2 separate regions of the Homo sapiens genome follow, and region 1 is linked to region 2. The links come from fine-mapping of genetic effects on gene expression. A gene starts in region 2. The other region holds a variant in brackets. All regions are shown on one strand. Distances are between the middles of the regions. Region 1 holds the start of DERL3 (derlin 3). Region 2 holds the start of MMP11 (matrix metallopeptidase 11).

The links.
Region 1: its variant is fine-mapped to the expression of MMP11 in whole blood (TOPMed, PIP above 0.99).

The regions. Positions count from the first base shown.
Region 1 is chr22:23,838,167-23,850,193 of GRCh38, reverse strand. It overlaps DERL3 (derlin 3), which reads left to right and starts at 11,188. Exons shown (of 7, transcript NM_001002862.3): 1 at 11,188-11,299; 2 at 11,418-11,483; 3 at 11,557-11,630; 4 at 11,749-11,842. The coding sequence starts at 11,207. RefSeq lists enhancers at 147-902, 903-1,658, 1,659-2,416, 5,319-5,812, 7,427-7,984 and a silencer at 10,963-11,265. The variant A/G (reference allele first, on the strand shown) is at 5,558.
Region 2 is chr22:23,767,985-23,777,919 of GRCh38, reverse strand. It overlaps MMP11 (matrix metallopeptidase 11), which reads right to left and starts at 5,071. Exons shown (of 8, transcript NM_005940.5): 1 at 4,942-5,071. The coding sequence starts at 5,049. It overlaps LOC107985577 (a long non-coding RNA gene), which reads right to left and starts at 9,694. Exons shown (of 3, transcript XR_007068022.1): 1 at 9,127-9,694; 2 at 6,613-6,733; 3 at 5,543-6,051.

The DNA.
Region 1 (12,027 bases), 71 kb before region 2:
GGCGCCTGTAATCTTAGCTACTGGGGAGGCTGAGGCAGGAGGCTTGCTTGAGCCGGGGAGGCAGAGGTTGCAGTGAGCCAAGATCGTGCCACTGAACTCCAGCGTGAGCGACAGAGCGAAACTCCGTCTCAAAAATAAATAAATAAATATTTAAAAATAAATAAATAAAAACAATCAATCCAGCGAAGCCCGCTGGTGATACTGACTCCCACCCGGCCCGTACCCCACCCGGGAGCCCACCGGCTCTTCCAGCGGGGTGCCTCCGTGTCCCTGAACTGTCTTAGAAAATGCCTGTTACCTGGGCCTAGGGAGGCAGGGCCCAGCGTTGGGGACATCCCAGGGATTCCGTCTCCTGGTGGAGACTTTCCCAGCCCTCGGGGAATGAATGGGCTCACCGCGCCCGGGTCCCGCCCCCGTTCAGCTTCTTCCCCGCAGGCTTTTCGGGATTTCCCCGACGCCGCCCAGACCGGCTCCGGCCGCGAGGGGGCGACAGAGCCCGGGCTCTGCGGAACCCAGCACCAGCGATTGCCGCCGACTCGCGAAGGTTCAGTGGTGGCGGTGACACAAAGGAGGCCTGCGCCCAGGCGCCGCTGGGTAGGGGGCACTTCATCTGGGGAGGCTCCCCTTTCTGCCTTGCCCTCCCTGCCCCTCAGCTCTTGGGCGCTCCAGTCCTGGCCGTTGTACCGAGTTGCAGCCTCCTGCCCTGCGCCACCCGCCCCGGTGCGATTTCACTTGCCCTGTCCTCACATCCAGCCGCGCGGGGCCGGGTGGGCCAGGACCCTGGGGAGCTGAGAAGCCTGACGCCAGTCCCATCCGGCCTCGGCCCGCCTGCGTGGCTCTCCTCTCTGCTCCATGCGGGGTGGGACAGGTGCCTCCTACCTGGAGCCAAGGCTCAGGCAGCAGCAGGCCCGGTCCATCCCTGGGGATGAGTGAGGGGTGCAGGGCACGGCTGACTGCGGGGACCTAGCGTTCCTGAGCACCTCACTGCTAGTGGGCTGAGCAGCTCTAGGCCAGCCTGTTGGCCTCTCTGAGCCTCGGTTTCCTCATCTGTCAGTGGGCTTGAGAGCGCTGTAGCACGGAGGACTGTAACACGGTTCAAGGCTACCCAGAGGCCATTCCTCCCTGCAGCCTTTCCTATTGCCCCCACGTGGGTGGGCATCTCTGTCCTACACCAGGGGCCTCCTGCGGGGGAGAGGGAGGAGGTCAGGAGGCCTGATGATCACTGAAGCCTCTGCCCCCGGGGTTCAAGCGATTCTCCTGCCTCAGCCTCCCGACTTGCTGGGATTACAGGCGTGAGCCAACATGCCCGGCTAATTTTTGTATTTTTAGTAGAGACGAGGTTTCACCATGTTGGCCAGGCTAGTCTCGAACTCCTGACCTCAGGTTATCTGCCCACCTTGGCCTCCCAAAGCACTGCGATTACACGCGAGAGCCACCGCGCCCAGCCAACACAGGGCCTTTTTTGATCCCGCAGTTGTCCCAGACAGACCCTAACCTCAGATGGGTGCACTGGGGGGCTGCAGCCTAGCTGGACAACCTCACTCAAGGTTGGCGACAGGGTGCAGGGGTGCAGACAGGCAGGTCCTGCAAACTACCCAAAGGCCTGCTTCTTCCTCCTCAGAGCTGGCATCCACTCCGGTTCTGGGTCTCATTTCCAGCGTAATGGCTCAAAGACAAAGAAAGAAAGAAAACAAGCCCCAACCCCACAACCAGCTGAGGCGGCCCCTCCTGGCCACCCTTTGATGTTTGAGGACTGAACAATGGGGCTGATTGCAGATGAGAGATTTGAAGCCATCTTAATTAGAAGGAAAGAATGTCCTCGTGGTCGGCTGTTCTAAAAATACAGCTGTGCCCACATCTGGAGGGAAAGGGTGGGGGCCTGGGAGGTGGGGACGGTGGTTAGGCCAGAGTCTGAAGCACTGATGCCTGCATTCCTTGGGGCGGAGGGGGCCTCTAAGCAGGGCCTCTTGGAAGGGGGTGGGGAGATGCCACAGCAGCCAGTCCGCTGTGGCTGGACCACCTTCTGCAGGTTTGGGATGCGCAAGCAGTGGGACAGGTGTGCCTTCCTGCGTCTGCCCTCACCAAGGAAGCCCTCCCCGTGCCGCAGCCTCGGTTTTCTCTTCTCTCCAACGGGGCAACCAAATTGGTCATTTGTTTGCATTTCAAATACTCACTTTGCGACCTAATCTTGCATTTGTTTTGCATTTTTTTTTTTTTTTGAGACAGAGTTTCACTCTTGTTGCCCAGGCTGGAGTGCAATGGCACGATCTCAGCTCACTGCAACCTCCGCCACCTGTGTTCAAGCAATTCTCCCGCCTCAGCCTCCCGAGTAGCTGGGATTATTACAGGAGCCTGCCACCACACCCCACTAATTTTCGTAATTTTTGTATTTTTAGTACAGATAGGGTTTCGCCGTGTTGGCCAGGCTGGTCTTGAACTACTGACCTCAGGTGATCCGCCCACCTCGGCCTCCCAAAGTGTTGGGATTACAGGCATGAGCCACCGCGCCCGGCTGTTTTGCATTCATTTTCTTAAAGAGGCCCCCCAGTCTCATGAAAGTGAAGGGCATTGGAGGGCTGGGTGAGTGTTTGGAGGAGGACGTGGAGGCAGGGGCCCTGGTGGTGTCACTGTGAAAGGATGGGTCACCTGGGTTGTCATCTCAGCCCACCGTTAGGAGCCTCCCATCCCAGCGGCTGGACAATCACCTGGCACGGGGAGCATGCCCCTCACTCATGGGAGCAGGGCCTGGCTGCTTGGTGGGGCTATCAGTGGATGCAAGCCAGTGGAGGTGGGGTGAACCAAGGCCTTTCTTTCTTTTTTTTTTTTTGAGACGGAGTTTCGCTCTTGTTGTCCAGGCTGGAGTCCAGTGGCACGATCTCAGCTCACCGCAACCTCCGCCTCCCGTGTTCAAGCGATTCTCCTGCCTCAGCCCCCCAAAGAGTTGGAACTACAGGCATGCACCACCATGCCCAGCTAATTTTGTATTTTTAGTAGAGACGGGTTTCTCCATGTTAGTCAGGTTGCTCTAGAACTCCCGACCTCAGGTGATCTGTCAGCCTCAGCCTCCCAAAGTGCTGGGATTACAGGCGTGAGCCACCGCACCTGGCTGAACCCAGGCCTTTCTGAACCTCTCCTTCCACCAGACCCATGGCTCTGAGTCACTAGTCCTGGGCAAGGCCTTCCAGAGTGGTGGCCCCAGTCCCTAAAGATTAGTTTTGTTTTCGTAGAGATGGAGTGTCACGCTGTTGCCCAGGCTGGCCTCGAACTCCCGGGCTCAAGCAATCCTCCTGCCTCCGCTGGGACTACAGCCACACGCCACTCCGCCAGGCTTTTTCGAAGTCAAAGACAGAGCTGTCTCAGGTTTTGTCTCTGTGAACTCATATCCCTGGCCCTGCCATATGGCTGACTCTGCCAAACAGATAATCTGCTTCTCCCCCTACACCGCCCACAGTGCTGAGCTTGAAAATAGCTGAGGCAGGGGAGGGGGAAGCCCCCACCAGATGCTCTGGAGCTCTGGGGTGCTTGGCCGGAGGTGGCTTTGACATTCTGGCAGCGGCCACAGCAGGAAGTGGGAATTCCTGGCAATTGCTCTGGGTCATGACAGTCAGGACACAGGCTCAGGCAGGTCCCGCAGCTGAGGGCTGAATGGAGACAGTTTCATCAGCCATGAAGGGTCAGAGACAGTAAAACGAGGCCCAGACAGCAGGGAGGCAGCTCAGGAGTGGAGTCTCATGTTGGAGACGCTCCCTGGGAGCCCAGAGGCTGCAAAAAGTTCTCACCTCCAAACCGGAGCTGGAAAAGGGTCTGGGGCTGCACAGCATTAGCTGGTTGGTGATGTCCCTCACTCCCCTGTGCCCCAGTGATGGGGTCAGGGATAGCTCACTTCCTCCGCATGGGTCCCTTCCATCACCCGTTATGGTGGCAAAGCCAGGACTGCTGATTTTGTGCCTCTTTAGCTGTGTGTCCTCAGGCAGTTTACTGAACCTCTCTGAGCCTATTTTCTCATCCGTAATAGTAACCTACTTCATCAGGTGGTGATGAGGGTTCGGTGAGTTTAATAAAAGCCATGGTGCAGTCTGGCTATAGATCACTGAGCAGCTATTATCTCCCGCACTTCACAGGTCCTTGCCTAGTCCATGAGCAGCACACGGGCCCATTCCTGCCTCCCCACTTTTGCTTAAGCCTTTGTCCCTGCCTAGCACATCCCCTCCTCCTCCTGTCCTCATCAGGAGCTCTCCTGCCCCACGGCTGCCCTGGACCACTCACCAGTGCATTTCCACTCCCTGCTTGGTATGGGATTCAGTGTCTCCTCCCCTGGCCAGAAGCTGAGCTCCTGCAGGAAAAAGGCACCCACAGCGACTCCCTCCCCAGCCCTGCAGGCCTCTCTGGCTGTTCCTGACCATAGGCCCATGAAGGCTCCTGGCTGAGAGGAGACAGCGAGGAACAGATCCGGCAGAGAGGACTGGCAGGGGCCCTCCAGCTTCCTCTGTTGGTGCATTCTTGCTCATAAGCATTCACTTATTCATAGCAGAGATGGGCCTTGGATGGGGAGGCCAGCTGTGTTTGTTACAGGAAGGGGCTTCCACCCAGAAATCTCTGATACCCCCATTATAGATCAGAGTACAACCTTGGAGCTGAAAGAGACTCTACACATGGACCCTTCTGACCCGCATCTCACAGAGAGGGACACAGAGCCAGAGAGGGAAGGGAGTGCTCAGGTCACAATGCCAGCCCCGAGGCTGCATTTCCAGCCCTGGAGTCCAGGTCTCTGTCTTCACAAGTTTCCCTGTTTTTCCCTGTTTACCAAGCCCCTGCCTGTGCCAGCTCCGCAGCAGAAACCAGGCCTAGAGGGGCCATTGTGTGGACAACTGCAGCCCTTCTGCATGAAGCAGGAATGACCAGGGCCACGGAAGGGAAGGAGCTGGGAGGACTGGGCTAGAGGCCAGGGAGGGCTTCCACCCCACAGCACCCCAAGCTCACCTGCCTGACTCAACGAGTGGTCTCCCTCCCTTACTGGCCATTCACCCATGTCTCCACCCAGTGGGGGCTCACTGTCCCCCAAGCTGGGTAGGCCAGGACCCCTCCTACCTTCACCCCCACTACCAAGCATTCACTAAGGCCTGTGGCTTCAGCCATCCTAACCCTTCCACTCCCTCGCTGTTAATGCAAGCCACTGCAGGCCACCGCTCTCCTCCCCGGCTCATCTGATTAGGACAGAGACCACGGCCGACACACCTCTGCCTGGCCTGGCCCCGCTTCTCCCTCCCGTCACAAGCAACTCTTCTTCCTTGCCTCCTTCACCTTCTCTCCTCTGCTCCCTTCCTCTCCCCCAGTTACCTCAGGGCCTTTGCACAGGCCCTTCCCCTATCCTGGCCTAGCTAGTGCAACCCATCCTCTGCCCCATTCTGCTTCCTCCCTCCCCATCCCACCCAGAGACCAGCTTATTCCTGGAAAGTCCAGATTCTGCTACCAGGTTCAGAGGGCCAGGCCCAGGCCGCTCCCTCTGCAGCCTGACACAACCCACCTGGATGGTTTGTTGTTCTTGCGCTCCGGCCAC[A/G]AGCAGCTGCTGCTATGTGGGTTCCGGATTCAGTGCTAAAAATAGCCTGTGGCCCAGACAGGAAGGGCCAAGGGGGACACAGCTGTTTCTGGGAGGGGCTAGCTGGAAGCCTACTCACAGCAATTGCAGGGGTCCCTGTGCTCAAAGGGGGTGGGCCCCGTGCTCAAAGAGGGGAGAGGTCCCCCAATGGACAAGTGCTCAGGGCCCAAAAGGCACTATGTGTCATCAAGAAGAAAATACAGCTGCACCAGCAGGTACACAAACGTTCAGTTTGTTTGATTCTTGTGGTTAGTTACAACAGGCATGGACTGCCTTTAGAATAAAATATATTTAAAAATTAAGTGCTCAGGACTCTAACAGAAGTAGGTGAGCTCTGGTCCCTTTGAAGGTGACCAGGGAGGGCTTCCTGGAGTAGGAGGCACTTTCACCCTCTGCTCTTCCTCTCTTATTTTTTTAATTTTATTTATTTTGCTTTTAAGAAACATATTTATTTTATTATTTTATTATTTTTGAGACAGAGTCTTGTTCTGTCGCCCAGGCTGGAGTGCAGTGGCACGATCTTGGCTCACCGCAACATCCGCCCCCGGGGTTCAGGTGATTCTCGTGCCTCAGCCTCCTGAGTAGCTGGGATTACAGGTGCATACCACCTTGCTTGGCTAATTTTTGTATCTTTAATAGAGACAGGGTTTCACCATGTTGGCCAGGCTGGTCTCCAACTCCTGACCTCAGGTGATCCACCGGCCTTGGCCTCCCAGGGTTCTGAGATTACAGGCATGAGCCAATGTGCCCAGCCAGGAAACATTTTTTAAAAAATATTTTTAAGAGTCGGGGTCTCACTCTGTCACCCAGGCTGGAGTGCAGTGGTGCAATCTCTGCTCACTGCAGCCTTGACCTCCCAGGCTCAAGCGATCCTCCAGCCTCAGCCCCCTGGCTCTCTCCCCCTTCCCACTTGGGGCTACAGGCATGCACCAGCACGTCTGGCTAATTTCTGTATTTTTTGTAGAGATGGGGTTTCTGTATGTTGCCCAGGCTGGTGTTGAACTCCTGAGCTCAGGCAATCCGCCTTCCTCAGCCTCCCAAAGTGCTAGGACTACAGGCGTGAGCCGCCACACCCAGCCTTACTCTTTTTTTTTTTTTTTTTTTTAACAGAATGAATAGTTCAGAGAGCTGGGACAATATTAGAGGAGAGAACCTGAGGCCTGAATAAGAGTTAGTGGTGGTGGTAAGGCATAGGAGAGAAGGGAAAGGACTAGAGAGTTCCATGGGAGCATCAAGTGTGACATAGGGGGCCGGGCGTGGTGGCTCACGCCTGTAATCCCAGCACTTTGGGAGTCCAAGGGAGGATTGCTTGAGGACAGGGGTTTGCGACCAGTCTAAGCAACACAGTGAGACGCCATCTCTACAAAAAAATTAAAAAATTAGCGGGGCATGGTGGCATATGCCTGTTGTCCCAGCTACTTGGGAGGTTGAGGTGGGAGGATCACTTGAGCCCAAGAGGTTGAGGCTGCAGTGAGCTGTGATCACGCCACTACTCTCCAGTCTGGGCAACAGAGCAAGACCCTGTCTCTAGGAAAAAAAAAAAAAAGTGCAACATGGGGCTGAGGGTATAGAGCTGACTCCAGGCTTGGGGGCTGAGGATGGCCCCTCCTAGTGTGTGAGGCCAGTGAGGGGGAAAGCTGGGTGGGGAGAGTATGCAGAGGGCGCTATCCTGCCTACAGACACTGAGAGGGCCTGGACAGGAGATCTAGGTGTCCTCTGGGAGTCAGCAGGAAGCGTCACAATGCCAGGGAGGTGGCATGGGGAGCAGAGCCCATTGTCACCTTGCCGAGGAACCACAGGTCTCCACCCACCCACCATCCTCAGCACAGGAGAAAGAAGGCTGGCCCAGCCGACAGGTCTGCCACCCTGATGTTAGGGTAAGGCACACCCTGCATCTCTAGGACCCTGGGAACTTGGGATGCCCAGGGCTTCCCTCTATAAAGAATTATCTGGAGGGGCTCAAGGGTCCAAGGAGAAGTGGACCTAGTATTTCCAGAGTGGCCTGTTCTGGGCCTCAGACTGGACAAGAAAGAATGGAGGTCTGCCCCAGGCCCTGTTCTGCATCCTTACGTGCCTCAGTTCCCCCATCTGAGGATATCCCGGGGCTCCGGAAAGGGAGCCTCTGCAGTGGACCCAGCTGCTGTTCCCTGGATGTCCTCCCTCCCAGCCCTGGCTGGCCTCCCCCACCCGCCCCAGGCTCCTGGCCTCCCAGGAATGTGCTTCTCAGCCCCCAATCTGGGCGCCTGCCTTATCGGCCCCCAGTCGAAGGGGAGACAGACGCCCCTGTCGACAATGACATCCCCTCCTGTTAGCCCCAGCCTGACCCTGAGTTGAGGGCCGGCCAGCGCCTGCTAAGTGCCTGGAGGAGGAATATCTCCCCTTCCCCACGCTGACATGAAACCCGACCTCCTGCACCGGCTCCTTTGTGCCCACCGGGCGCCCGCCCAGGCGTCAGAGGCCCTGGGTCCCCGCCCTGCTGCACACTGTGGCTGCCAGGGTGGGATTTGCTCTGCCTGGCATGCTTCCAACATGACCTTAGCCTGCTTTGCTGGAAAACCAAGGTTGTCTGCGGGGGTCCGCTCACCCTGCTCCCAGCCCCCAACCCCTCAGTGTCTTGGTCCAACCCCTGCTGTATGAGGCCAGACCTTCTCCTCACATCCCTCCAGCAAATGCACTTCCCTCCAGCACTCCAGGCTCTCCCCGTCCCCTCCAGAGCAGGGAGGAAGGCTCCTGAACCCACTGTCATTAGGCACTGGTCTCACCCCACTCCCCAGGGAACCCCTCTCAGGGCCCTTGTGGGACCCTCACGCTCTTGGGATCCACCTGAGAGCCTTCTCAGCCAGTTCTCCCTCTTGGCCAGTTCCAGTCTCCTCGGGGGACCTCAGGGCCCTGTCCAGAGCATCCCTCGTTTTCCACACTTCCCTCCAAGGCTGCACTCCCCTTGTTTGTTAAGGCACATCCATTTGTGTGCCTTCCTCTCCCTCCTGCCTGCCATTATCCTGGTTACCAGGAACCTTGGCATGGCTGCAATTCACAGTCCCTTCCCGGGCCACGTCTCCCTGGATTCTCACTGCCTGGCTCCTGAAGCCCTTTCCTGGCTCAGCCTCCCTTGGCCTCCCCAGCTGGGGCTGCCTTCCCTCCCTGGCTACTGCAGGTCAGGCTACCCAGGCCTGGCCTCTTTTCTCCATCAACCCTTGCCCCTTGAGCATCTCACACACGCCCAAAGCTACAAATACCATTGATCTACTACTGGATGACGGCACCCACATTTAGACTGTCTGCTCCAACCCCTACCCCAACACCACACTCAGATTTTTCCAAGTGATGTCACACAGATGCCTCAAATTCGATGAGTCCAGAACAGGACCCTCTATGCCCCTCACCTTCTCCCCACGAGCCCTCCATCTCAACAAAGACCACCACCATCCAACCACTCTGCGGCTCAGGCCTCTGAATCCACTTGGACTCCCCTCTCAGCCCTGTCCCGTCTGTAGGCAAACCCATATCCCACCCCTCCTTGTCCTCCAGGTTCCACCTCCCAGCCCCGAAAGTAATCACTGTCCCTTAAGGATTCCCCCTGCTCAAGGATTCCTCTGGCAGTCCACTACCCTGACAGCAAACACAGAGGTTTGTTGTTTTTTTTTAAATTTTAGTAACATATACACAACATAAAATTTGTCCAAACTATTTTCAAGTGTTCAGTTCAGTGGTATTAAACATTCTTATGCAACCCTCCCCACCATCCATCTCCAGAACTTTTTCATTTTCCCAAACTGGAACTGCACTCATTAAACAATAACTCCCTGATCCCCTCTCATATAAGTGGAACCATACAGTATTTGTCTTTTTGTGACTGGTTTTTTTTTTTTTGAGACGGAGTCTCACTCTGTTGCCCAGGCTGGAGTGCAGTGGTGCAATCTCGGCTCACCACAACCTCCATCTCCCGGATTCAAGCAATTCTCCTGCCTCAGCCTCCCGAATAGCCAGGATTACAGGTGCCCGCCACCACGCCCAGCTAATTTTTGTATTTTTAGTAGAGACGAGGTTTCACCATGTTGGCCAGGCTGGTCTCGAACTCCTGACCTCAGGTGATCCACCCGCCTCGGCCTCCCAAAGTGCTGGGATTACAGGTGTGAGCCACTGCGCCCAGCCTTGTGACTGGTTTATGTTACTGGGTGTAATGTCTTCAAGGGTCATCCATGCTGCATCATGTATCCGAATTTCATTCCTTTAAGGTTGAATGGTATTGCATTGCATGTAGACAGCACATTTCGTCTGTCTCATCGGTGGGTGAACTGATGTGAACCATTGTGAATAATGGGGCCATGAACATGGGTGTATGAACATCTGTTCAAGTCCCTGCTTTTGATTCTTTTGAATGTGTACCCACAAGCAGCATTGCTGGATCATACGGTAATTCTATTTTTAATTTTTTGAGTCATGATCATATTGTTTTTCACAGCGGATGCACCATTTTATATTCCCACCAACGGTGCCCAAGGGTTCCAATTTCCCCATATCCTCGCCAACACTTATTTTGTTTTATTGTTTTGCTTTTCACAGTTACCATCCTGATGGACACAGGGATGCTTGCAAAGTGACAAACTTTAGAGGTATCCCAGGTCACCCCACCTGGCACTGCGGACGCCCACGTGGCCCCACCCCTCACTTGGCAATATTCTCATCAAGTGTCAGCACTAGCTTATTGTATTGACTGCCTCCTGGCTGGACTCTAAGAGACAGTGTCTTTTATTGCATGCTACATCCCCAACATCTAGAACAGTGTCAGGCAAACAGTTGTTTAATAAACGGTGGAAGGAAGGAAGGGAGGGAGGGAGGGAGGGAAGGAGGGAAGGAAGGTGGGTAGGTTGGTTTCTATTTTCCACCAAAATATTGAGGACCTCTCCTGCCTGTCCACTTGCTCTGGTGCGCCTCTCAACCCTCGCGCCCCACCTGGACTCAATCCCGCAGTCCTGCCTCTCCTTCCTTGGGCCCCCGGGGAAGAACCCCGACAGCGGCCGGCACATTTGAGTGGGGCCCTGGACGTTTGGGGAGGTTTGGACACATTCCCGAATGCCTCCCTGCTGTGGGTTAGGTGGGCCTGTCTTGGGCTGGCAGCGAGGACAACGTTGTGGCTAGGTCGTCAGTTAGTGAGCCAGCACGGTCTGAGCCGCCACACTCCGCGCCCCGCCCACGCGCCCCGCCCTTTCCAGTTTTGCCTCGCCTGCTCGGGTCTTCGCTCCTGTAACCCATACGATCTTAGCCCCGCCCCCGTGGTGTCGTGGGTCCACGCTACTGGTCCTCTCCTAGAAAGCCGCGAAATGACCAGTTCCTCATTGGCCACACGTTCTCCCGCGCCACCACCGCAGCCACAACAACCGCCACGTGCTCAACCTTGGCGCCTGCCCATTGGCCACCAGCCTCTACCCGCCCACTCTCCCTTTCCGCCCCTAATTTCCCTCTTCTTCCTTCCATTGGCTGTCGGGCTCAGGGGCTCTCTTTTCAGCCTGGGGCGCGCAGCGCCTCGGATGCGGATTGGCCGAAGGCGGGGCTGGGAGGCGGGTTAAAGAGCGCGTTGCTGGCTGGGCCACGCGTGCTTGAGAAGGTTCAATGGCGTGGCAGGGACTAGCGGCCGAGTTCCTGCAGGTGCCGGCGGTGACGCGGGCTTACACCGCAGCCTGTGTCCTCACCACCGCCGCGGTGGTAAGCGGCCGGGCGGACCGGACGTCGCCTTGGTTACAGCCTCTGGCGGGAGGGGTGAGGGTCGCCATGGTTACGGCGTGGCTCCCGGGCAGCTCTTGACTGGCCCCTGGTTCCACAGCAGCTGGAGCTCCTCAGCCCCTTTCAACTCTACTTCAACCCGCACCTTGTGTTCCGGAAGTTCCAGGTGAGGCCGCCCCGCGCCGCGCACCTGTGGGCCCGACCCACCCACCCCGCACCTGACCGCCCGTCCCCCGTAGGTCTGGAGGCTCGTCACCAACTTCCTCTTCTTCGGGCCCCTGGGATTCAGCTTCTTCTTCAACATGCTCTTCGTGTATCCTGCGCCCTGCGGACACGGGCTGGGTGGAGGGCAGGCCGGCCGGGCTGGGAGAGAGGCCGGGACGGGGAAACTGAGGCCCCGCCTGGTGGCACTTCCTATACCGACGCCGTAGGTTCCGCTACTGCCGCATGCTGGAAGAGGGCTCCTTCCGCGGCCGCACGGCCGACTTCGTCTTCATGTTTCTCTTCGGGGGCGTCCTTATGACCGTATCCTTCCCGCAGGCTCTGGAACCTCGGGCTAGGGCGCCTCGGCGTCCAGCCTGTGTTGGTCCTGGGGCCAACACAGCCATGCCAGAGAGGGACACAGTCGCTGTCTCCAGCTTAGTATGTGTTGAGGGCCCACTCTGTGCTCAGCTGCAGGGGTCAGGGCTAGATCTTCAGTGCTGTATGCA
Region 2 (9,935 bases):
CACCCCACCATGAAGGGGGGCCTTCTGAACACGGAGGCTATGGAACTACTTAGGGCGTGAGGCCCTGAAGCAGCTTCCCCCCATTTCCGAGCTTGCTTATTGCATGGTTACCTGGCACAGCGCAGTCTCACTGGGTTGTGGGTTCTGGCCGATTCTGGGCTTATTGGTTTTTTGTTTTGTTTTTTTGAGATGGAGTCTCACTCTGTTGCCCAGGCTGGAGTGCAGTGGCGCGATCTCGGCTCACTACAACCTCCACCTCCCGGGTTCAAGCAATTCTCTGCCTCAGCCTCCCGAGTAGCTGGGGTTACAGGTGCCTGCCACCACGCCTGGTTAATTTTTTTTTTTTTTTTTTTGAGAGAGAGTCTCGCTCTATCGCCCAGGCTGGAGTGCAGTGGTGTGATCTGGGCTCACTACAACCACCGCCTTCCGGGTTCATGCCATGCTCCTGACTCAGCCTCCTGAGTAGCTGGGACTGCAGGCACTTGCTGCCATGCCCGGCTAATTTTTTTGTATTTTTAGTAGAAACGGGATTTCACCATGTTACCAGGATGGTCTCGATCTCCTGACCTTGTGATCCGCCTGCCTCGGCCTCCCAAAGTGCTGGGATTACAAGCATGCGCCACCGCACCCAGCCTCACGCCTGGCTAATTTTTGTATTTTTAGTAGAGATGAGGTTTATCCATCTTGGCCAGGCTGGTCTTGAACTCCTGACCTCATGATCCACCTGCCTCGGCCTCCCAAAGTACTGGGATTACAGGCGTGAGCCACCGCGCCCGGCCTGGGCTTATTGTTAATAAGTACTTAGCACTGGTTGGCCGGGCCTGGTGGCTCACGCCTGTAATCCCAGCACTTTGGGAGGCCGAGGCAGGCGGATCATGAGGTCAGGAGATCGAGACCATCCTGGCTAACACGGTGAAACCCCGTCTCTACTAAAAATACAAAAAATTAGCCAGGCGTGGTGGCGGGCTCCTGTAGTCCCAGCTATTCGGGAGGCTGAGGCAGGAGAATGGCGTGAACCTGGGAGGCAGAGCTTGCAGTGAGCCGAGATCGTGCCACAGCACTCCAGCCTGGGTGACAGAGCGAGACTCCATCTCAAAAAAAAAAAAAAAAGTACTTAGCACTGGTTGCAGGCTAGGACCTTGGCAACAGCTCCACAGACTTGCTCTTAGCCCCTGATGGAACCTCTCACCAACTCCACCATCATCACCCTCATTTCCAGGATGAGGAAATGGGCCCCAGAGGAGTTAAGCAGCTTGATCAGACAACAGCTGGCAGGCAGCGGACTGTCTGTGCTCACAGCCCACCCAGCTCCCTGCTACCTCTGCTCTGCTCTGCAGGGGTTGAGTTACCCTTCCCCTGAAGGAGGGACCCAGGCTGGCCTCACCTTGGTGAGGTGCAAATTATTCAGCGCCTGCTATTTCCCGGGCATTTTGCAGGCAGGTTCGTTGGGCTTCCAATATCCACCAGGCAGGTGGAGATGCTACATATCCAAGTTCTCCCATGGAGGATGTGGGCTGCCAGAGGGGCCTGCCTCCTCCTCCTCGCCACACTGCCCCCTTGACTTACAGGAGAAACAGATTCCTTTCCCCAGCCTGGCAGGGGTATGAAGACCCTCCCTGGAAAGGGCAGAGCTGTGCTCTCCCCTGGGAGCTCCAAACAACCCAGAGCCCAGCCTGCCAGCCCTGCTATGCCCATGGTCAGAAATCTCTTCTCTCCTCTGCCCTCTAGTGAGTCCTGGTGCAGACAGTCATGGAGGGAGAGCCACGGGCATGCCCCCACCCCTTCCACTGTCCCTTCCTGTCCTTCCCTCATGAGGCACCCAGTCCATGCCCAAACCCCTGGATCATGACAGTCTTAGTGTCACAAAAAGAGCCAGCCACTGAGGTTCAGAAGGCCTAGTTCTATGACATGGAGACTCTAGACAAGTCACCTTCCTCTCTTAGCCTCAACTTTCCTATCTGTCAAATGGGAATGATGCCACAGCAAAGGGCTACATGACATCCTTCTGTAATGCCTGCTGTAGCCTCTGGCACAGAAAAGCACCTCTTACCTGGCCCTGTTCCTTGTCCCTGTAGGCCCTCCCCTCCCACGCTTGGGAATCTGCCCTTGCCAGTCCCTACAGTTCCCATCACCCACCGCCCCTCTAGCTACCCAACAAAATCTTCAGGCTTTAAATGGTAAAACAGAAGTTGCAGCTAGAAGGGAGCTTTCAGGCCTAGAAAAGAGAAGCGCCTTGTGCAGGGTCTCCCACATATCAAGGTCTCTTCTCCCTGTCCCTGTCTTGTTCATTAAATTCTTAGAAACTGAGTGAGCAGGAGATGCTAGAAATGAGGCCTCTAGCTAGTGAGGTTGTTTTTAGAGCCCATTATTTTTTTAGAGCCCATGAGCTCTTGGCCTCAGTTTCCCCATGGCTGGGATAGGACACACATTCTGCCTCACTGTCCTCCCACACTTCATCTTTCCAAGTCCTTTCTGGCCTGGGGCCAGATGCCCTAACTACAAGGCACGGCATGAAGCAGCTTGCTACTTGTGAGACAGGTGGGCTTGGCCTTCCCAGGACTCTCAGGATTCAGTGAGGTGAGGTGGTAGACACAGGCCACCACTGGCCTCATCTACACCCCTGGGGAGCTTGAGGAAGAAGCAGCTCCCCCATTTCCCAGAGGATGAGACAGAGCCCAGAGAGCTCAAGGACTTTGCCCGGGGTCACACAGCAAGTCATGCAAGAGCTGGACCTAGACCTGGGGCTCATGCCTCCCACCTCCAGGGCTTCCCCCTGTCTCCCCAGCTCTTGGCTTTTCTCCAAAACCCACTTTCCCAAGAAGCATTTCTGCTTCCAGTGCATTCCCTCTGTCTTGGCCAGTAGCCTCCCTTGGCCTGCCCTGTGGTGGGTTCTTAGCTCACTCAGCCCCACCCTCTTCTGCCAGACACCAAACCTCAGCTGCAGACACATTCAAGGAATTTCTCAGCTGACCCAGTGTCCTGGCAGAGCTTAGAGACTCGGAGTCAACCCCGCCCTGGGGTCAACTTGCAATCCAGAAAATGGGAGGCACCAGATAGAGGGGAGATAAGGGAGGACCCCAGGGTGCCAGGAAACACTGCGAAAGGCTGGGCTCATTGTGCCCCTTTCTGGGCCTCAGTTTGCAGTTGGTCTAGTGGGTATAATTAATCATAGCTATGCCTTCTGATGTCGGTGGGAGGCAAGACTTCGAGGAGGGCACTTGTTAGGCTATGGAGGAAGACGGGAGCATCACCATGCAGGCTCAGAGAGGTCAAGCAACCTGCCCAACTCACACAGCCAGGTGGCAAGCAGGGATATCTTCTCCCTCAAGCTTCCACCTAATCTTCCTATTCTCACCCCTCTGCTGCTGGCTCCAGGAGGGACGGTAGCTTCGTCCCATCCATCGGACTGCAGGGCTTCCATCAACCCTGAAAGCTGGGAACTGGGCTGGATAAATATTTACAGAGCTCTCCCAGCCTTGCTGAAGGCAGCCGGGGGATAAACACATCAGAGGTGACCCCACATGCTCCCTGCGTGTTTGCAGAGTGACAGACCACAGTCCAGCTCAGACCCCACCCCAAGCTGGCCCCCAGCTCCAGCACTGACCATGCACAAGCGTCAAAGTGGCAGCTACAGGTGACAGTGTTTCTAGTGAGCCTGGCATCACCTCATTGCTCAACAGTGGACACAGCAGTAGGCACCATTGCCCCCTCCCACCTGCACTCCCATTAGAGATGGAGTGGGTGAGATTCTGAGGCATGGCAGGATTCACCCAGGGTCACATGGTTCAAACCCAGATCTCTCCAATTTCCAGACCTGTGGTTCAATGTCTACCCACAGTGATTCCTGACTCTGTCCCAAGTCCTAGGAACCAAGAGGGGCTGGGAAGGAGGCAAGACTCCAGACTGAGATGCCCCCCATTCACTCTACCCCACCCATCCCATCCCTTTCTGCTCCCATAGCCAGCACAGGACAAGGCTGCCCTGAGCAGAGCCAGAGTGGCTGGACAGAGGGTCCCAGCCTGGCCAGGCCTGCCTCCTCACCAGGCCAGTCCTGAGACTCCTGCCTGTCACACCCTCCTGCTCCCTTCCCTGCCCGAGCTGTCTGGATGCCTCCGCTGTGGAGTGGAGTGGCCCAGGCTCTGGCCCCAGGCCCTGTGACTGGTGCCTGGAAGCGCCCCAGGGAAGGGGCAGCTTTTGGGACACATGCAAGCTGTCACACACACTCCATGACAGTCCCTCCTCTCCTCACTCTGCTGTCCTCTCTTACCTGGGCTTTCTTCTCCTCTCCTGAGCACACATTTTCTCCCTTTCCTTTCTCTCCCCGCTTCTTTCTGACAGCCACCTCTCAGTCACACACACACTGCACTCATACTATTTCATACTCATGTTCTCCTGGCTCCAAGCCTCCCAAAACTGCTGCCGGCAGGTGCCCGCGGGGGACATCTCCAGGCTTAGACCCCATTTCCCGCAGCACAGCGCTGCCCTCCCTTCTCCCTTTATCCTTCATCCCACCGCACACCTGGAGGTGTACTAACTGCGGCCACACACCTGCAGGCTGACACCTGCCTGGGATCTGCTCGGCTTTGTCCCTGCGATGAATAGGGGGCCCTGTTACCACTCCCTCTGCTGCTTCCTTCAACGCACACTCCAGCACCCGCGGCTGGAGCGCGAGAGGCAGGTCCCCACGCTGGGAGCAAGCGTGAGTCCAGCGTGGAGTCCCGTCCCACCAGCCCGAACGATGCCGGCGCCGGCTCCCCTTCACACCCCCAGGGACTGCAAGCTCGCTGTCTATCACGCCTAGAGGGAACCAGAAAGCGTTTCGGGTACCGGGCGCTGGAGGCCACCCGGGGCGCCCCCTTCGGTCCGGATCCGCCGCTGGGCCCAGCCCGCGTGCCCGGCGCCCCCTCAGCGAGGAGCGGCCGGCGAGTGGCGGGCACTCACCGGCGGCAGAGCCCGGGCCAGCAGCGGCGGCGGCTGGAGCAGCAGCAGCAGCATCGGGGGCAGGAGGGCGCGCGCGGCCGCGCTGCGGAGCCAGGCGGCCGGAGCCATCCGCCCCGGGGCTGCTGGGCTTGCTGGGCCGCTCCGGGCCGCCGCCCCTTATAGCTTCCGCCCCACCCCCGGCCCGCCTCGGCCCCGCCCCCCGCCGCCTTTTGTTCTGAACTCTCCTAGCAGCCGCGGCCCGGGTGGGGGAGGTGAACGGGGAGGGTACGGCCCAGCGGGGTCGAGGGCCGGAGACAGGGTCCTGCCCCGGGGCTGGCAAAGTCCCTATCTGGTGCTGGGTGACCCTGGCCAACCCGTGCCGCTCTGGGTCTCAGTTTCTCCTCTGGGTGGTGGCCGTCCAAAGTCTTAGACTTGGCTAGAGTCTGAGAGGAGTCAGGTTTCATGGGTCCCATCCGTACCCCCACCTTTGGAAGGCGCATCCCACTGGGTCTCCTTGGTGGCCTGACCTCTGACCTCTGACAGGTGGTCCTACCCACAAGCAAGTTCCCCCACCCCTCAGAGCCTCAACGGATCCTTCTAGAAGATGACACAATAGCCCCTGTGAGGAAAGGGATATTATTTTATTTTTTATTATTATTATTTTTTGAGACACAGTCTCACTCTGTCTCCCAGGCAGGAGTGCAGTGGTGTGATCTCCACTCACTGCAACCTCCGCCTCCCAGGTTCAAACGATTCTGCTACCTCAGCCTCCCAAGTAGCTGGGACCACAGACGTGCGCCACCATGCCTGGCTAATTTTTGTATTTTTAGTAGAGATGGGGTTTCACCATGTTGGCCAGGCTGGTCTCGAACTCCTGACCTCAAGTGATCTGCCCACCTTGGCCTCCCAAAGTGCTGGGATTACATGGGGAAGCCATTGCACCTGGCCAGGAAAGGGATATTAAAATGTGTCCCAGGGGAAAGTGAGGCATATGGCAGGGACTGGCCAGTTCTTCAGCTTGGGATAGACCGAAGTTTACAGATAGGGAAACTGAGGCTCCAAGAGGGAGGGTCCAGGCTTTTCCACACCAGCAGACAAGTGGAGGGGTCAGGAGGTCCTCTAGCTGGTCAGCTGTGGGAAGGATGCTGTCAGAAGGCTGTGGGAGGTGTCTGAGTGGAGTACTGGGCCCCCAGGGTGTCCCCTCGTCAGTGCCCAACAAGCCCCTGGGGACCCCTCCAGGCTAGCCACCTCAGACTTGAAAGAAAGGAGGCGAGAGGCCGGGCGCAGTGGCTCATGCCTGTAATCCCAGCACTTTGGGAGGCCGAGGCAGGTGGATCACGAGGTCAGGAGTTGGAGAGCAGCCTGACCAACATGGTGAAACCCTGTCTCTACTAAAAATACAAAAATTAGCCAGGTGTGGTGGCACACACCTGTAAGCCCAGCTACTCAGGAGGCTGAAGCAGGAGAATCACTTGAACCCGGGAGGCGGAGGTTGCAGTGAGCCGAGATTGTTCCATTGCACTCCAGCCTGGGTGACAGAGCGAGACTCCATCTCAAAAAAAAGAAGGAAAGGAGGTGAGACTCAAAGGAGGGGTTGTGTCCACATTCTGGAAGGGATCCTTCAGTCTCATCCCTGATTTTCGGGGTTACCCAGTACTGCTGTACACCCCCTGAAATGATGAAGGGCCTCACCACCTCACCAGGCGACCTGTTCCATCATGGGTGGCCCTGCAGAGCCACGATCCAGGCAGTGGCTCGCATCCTGGCAGGCAGGGCTCTGAGCTGCTCAAAGGTGAGGCTGTGGTCAGGAAGCCTGGGCCAAGAAAGGGAAGCGGGTGGGGAAATGTTTCACAGCTTATTCAAGAAGACTCCACAGAGACTCCTAGAGGGCGAGGAGAAGTAAGACAGCAGTAATTTTTACAACCTACACTGTTCGTAATCTTTTCTTTTTTTTTTTTTTTTTTTTGAGACGGAGTCTCTCTCTGTCGCCCAGGCTGGAGTGCAGTGACGCGATCTCGGCTCACTGCAAGCTCCGCCTCCCAGGTTCATGCCATTCTCCTGCCTCAGTCTCCCGAGTAGCTGGGACTACAGGCGCCCGCCACCATGCCCAGCTAATTTTTTATATTTTTAGTAGAGATGGGGTTTCACCGTGTTGGCCAGGCTGGTCTTGAACTCCTGACCTCAGGTGATCCACCCGCCTCGGCCTCCCAAAGTGCTGGGATTACAGGCGTGAGCCACCGCGCCTGAAAGGCAATCTTTTCTTTAAAGTCACTCACTTTTATTTACTTTTATTATTTTGAGACAGGGTCTTGCTCAATGGTGTGATCTTGGCTCACTGCAACCTCCGCCTTCCAGGCTCAAACGATCCTCCTGCCTCAGCCTCCCAAGTAGCTGGGACTACCGGTGTGCATCACTATGCCCTGCTAATTTTTGTATTTTTTGTAGAGACAGGGTTTCACCATGTTGGCCAGGCTGGTCTCGAACTCCTGGACTCAAGCAATCTGCCTGCCTGGGACTCACAAAGTTCTGGGATATAGACATGAGCCACTATTCCCCGCTAAAGTGACTCATTTTTAAAAAGTAGGCATTTCAGGCCAGGCGTGGTGGCTCATGCCTGTAATCCCAGCACTTTGGGAGGCTGAGGCAGGCGGATCACAAGAGACCATCCTGGCCAACATGGTGAAACCCTGTCTCTACTAAAAATACAAAAAAAAATTAGCTGGGCATGGTGGCACGTGCCTGTAGTCCCAGCTACTTGGGAAGCTGAAGCAGGAGAATCACTTGAACCCGGGAGGTGGAGGTTGCAGTAAGCTGAGATCACACCACCGCACTCCAGCCTGGCAACAGAGTGAGACTCTGTTTAAAAAAACAAAAACAAAAACAAAAAAACAACAAAAAACAAACAATTAGCGGGGCATGGTGGCATGTGCCTGTGGTCCCAGATACTCGGGAGGCTGAGGCAAGAGAATCGCTTGAACCCAGGAGGCAGAAGTTGCAGTGAGTGGAGATCATACCACTGCACTCCAGCCTGAGCGACAGAGCAAGACTCCGTTTCAAAAAAAAAAAAAAAAAAAAGTTGGCATTTCAATGCCTGCTTCAGTGTCATCCTTTCAGCCTCATTTTCATTTGTGTAACCCACTTAAGTGGTCTTGGGTGCCTCCGAGGTGCAAGGCCATGCTTTGTGGAACCTGCAGTCCATCAGCCATGGGAGCTGAAGTAACAACTCTCTGCAGTTTAGGCCCGGGGACCACCATGAGAAGTGTTCAGTTTGTTTGGTGTGGCAAACAGGAACCAGGTGGCATGGACTGCATGAACAAGGGAGTAGCGGCTGGACCAGGCCTGGTGAGTCTGCCAGGAAAGAATGGCCCACCCTTGGTGTGCTCACCTCACTGGGAGGCCACCCTCAAGGTGGGTGGTCACCCCCCTTCAGAGAGGAGAAACTGAAGACAGGGCGGGGAAGGGCCCTGTTCACAGGCTGGCTGAAAGGACTGCAGTGTGAGAGAACACAGGGCTGCACCTGACTTCCATGGAGAGCATGCATGGCTGGGGACAGCTGTGCACACACAGAATTGAGCATGCCAGGCAGGGCCAAACGCCCCAGCCACCACTCCCCTTGCCCCTTGACCTGCTCCTTCCTTATGGAGGGGCCTCCTCTCTTACTTGGTGACCCACACCCCCACTTCTGGGTGCTTTTGCTCTTGGTTGCACCCTGCCGACAATCCCGGTGTCAGGAGTCCTCTGCAGGCACAGCAGTGATGAGGGACAGTCCCTACCTTCCCCCACCTAGGAGTAATAATATGACCACTGCAAAGTCACCCAGAAAAGACCATAAAAACCTCAAGCTCAGCCGGGCGCGATGGCTCATGCTTGTAATCCCAGCACTTTGGGAGGCTGAGGTAGGAGGATCATGAGCTCAGGAGTTGGAGACCAGTTTGGCCAACATGGTGAAACCCCGTCTCTACTAAAAATACAAAAATTAGCCAGGTGTGGTGGCACGAGCCTGTAGTCCCAGCTACTCAGGAGGCTGAGGCAGGAGAATTGCTTGAATCCGGGAGGTGGAGGTTGCAGTGAGCCGAGATCGCCACTGCACTCCAACCTGGGCGACAGAGCAAGGCTCCGTGTCAAAAAAAAAAAAGTAAAAAGTAAAATTAAAACCTCAAGTTCTCGAAGAGCAGGAAAGCATTCTAAATCCGCGCTCCAGCTCACCTGGCCTGGAACGAAGCTGCTAAAATTGCGAGGCCGCAGGCTTCAAACTTGCGCTAGATTTGACCGAGCCGGGCAAATGCTCCTAGGCCTTTGGGATAGACACGCTGCTCGGATGTCGCGTAAAGGCCGTTAGTGTCGGGGGTTGCACTCGCGGGGCCAGGGACTAGGTGGGGGCGGTCGGGCCGGCCCGGGGAATCCGGTGGGGTTCAGGGCCGCGCGGGGGGCCTCATATCCCCCGCGGGCACTGCGTAAGGCTGCCAGCATTGGCAGCGCATTTTGGCCAACAGTCGAAGACGGGTTGGGACGCCCCCTCGTGGGAGTTCTGGGGATGGGTTGCTCCAGGCCTTCCCCAGGGCCGCGCTTCACTTCCCTAGGCCACCGGAGACTCCCAGGCCACGCGGTGGTCAGCAGACCCTGTCTGGAGGGAGGGGACAGACAGCCGAGTCCGGGAGGGGGCAGAGAGCGGAGTCCAGCCTGGAGCCTCGCGTCCCCTTCCCAGCTGGCCCCATCCCGTCGCCTCCCCGTCTCCTCTCCCCTCCAGGGCTCGCAACAACCCCCAACTCCGCTCCCTGCCCTCTGCGGTGGTCCTAACAGAAGGCACTGTCGCCCTCCTTAAGCCCTCGGCGCTTTGCGACACTGGCCCCTGTCCCCAGAACCCGCACAGCCTGCCAGGCGCAGGGAGGGAGCAGGGTCCCATTTCCAGCCGAGACCCGGAGCTGCTGGAAGGGAGATGTCCGGAGGACGGGAGAAGGGGGATAGGGTTGGGGGCAGTGCCGCCTCCCGCTGGGGGCGTGTTCCTGAGGCCCCGC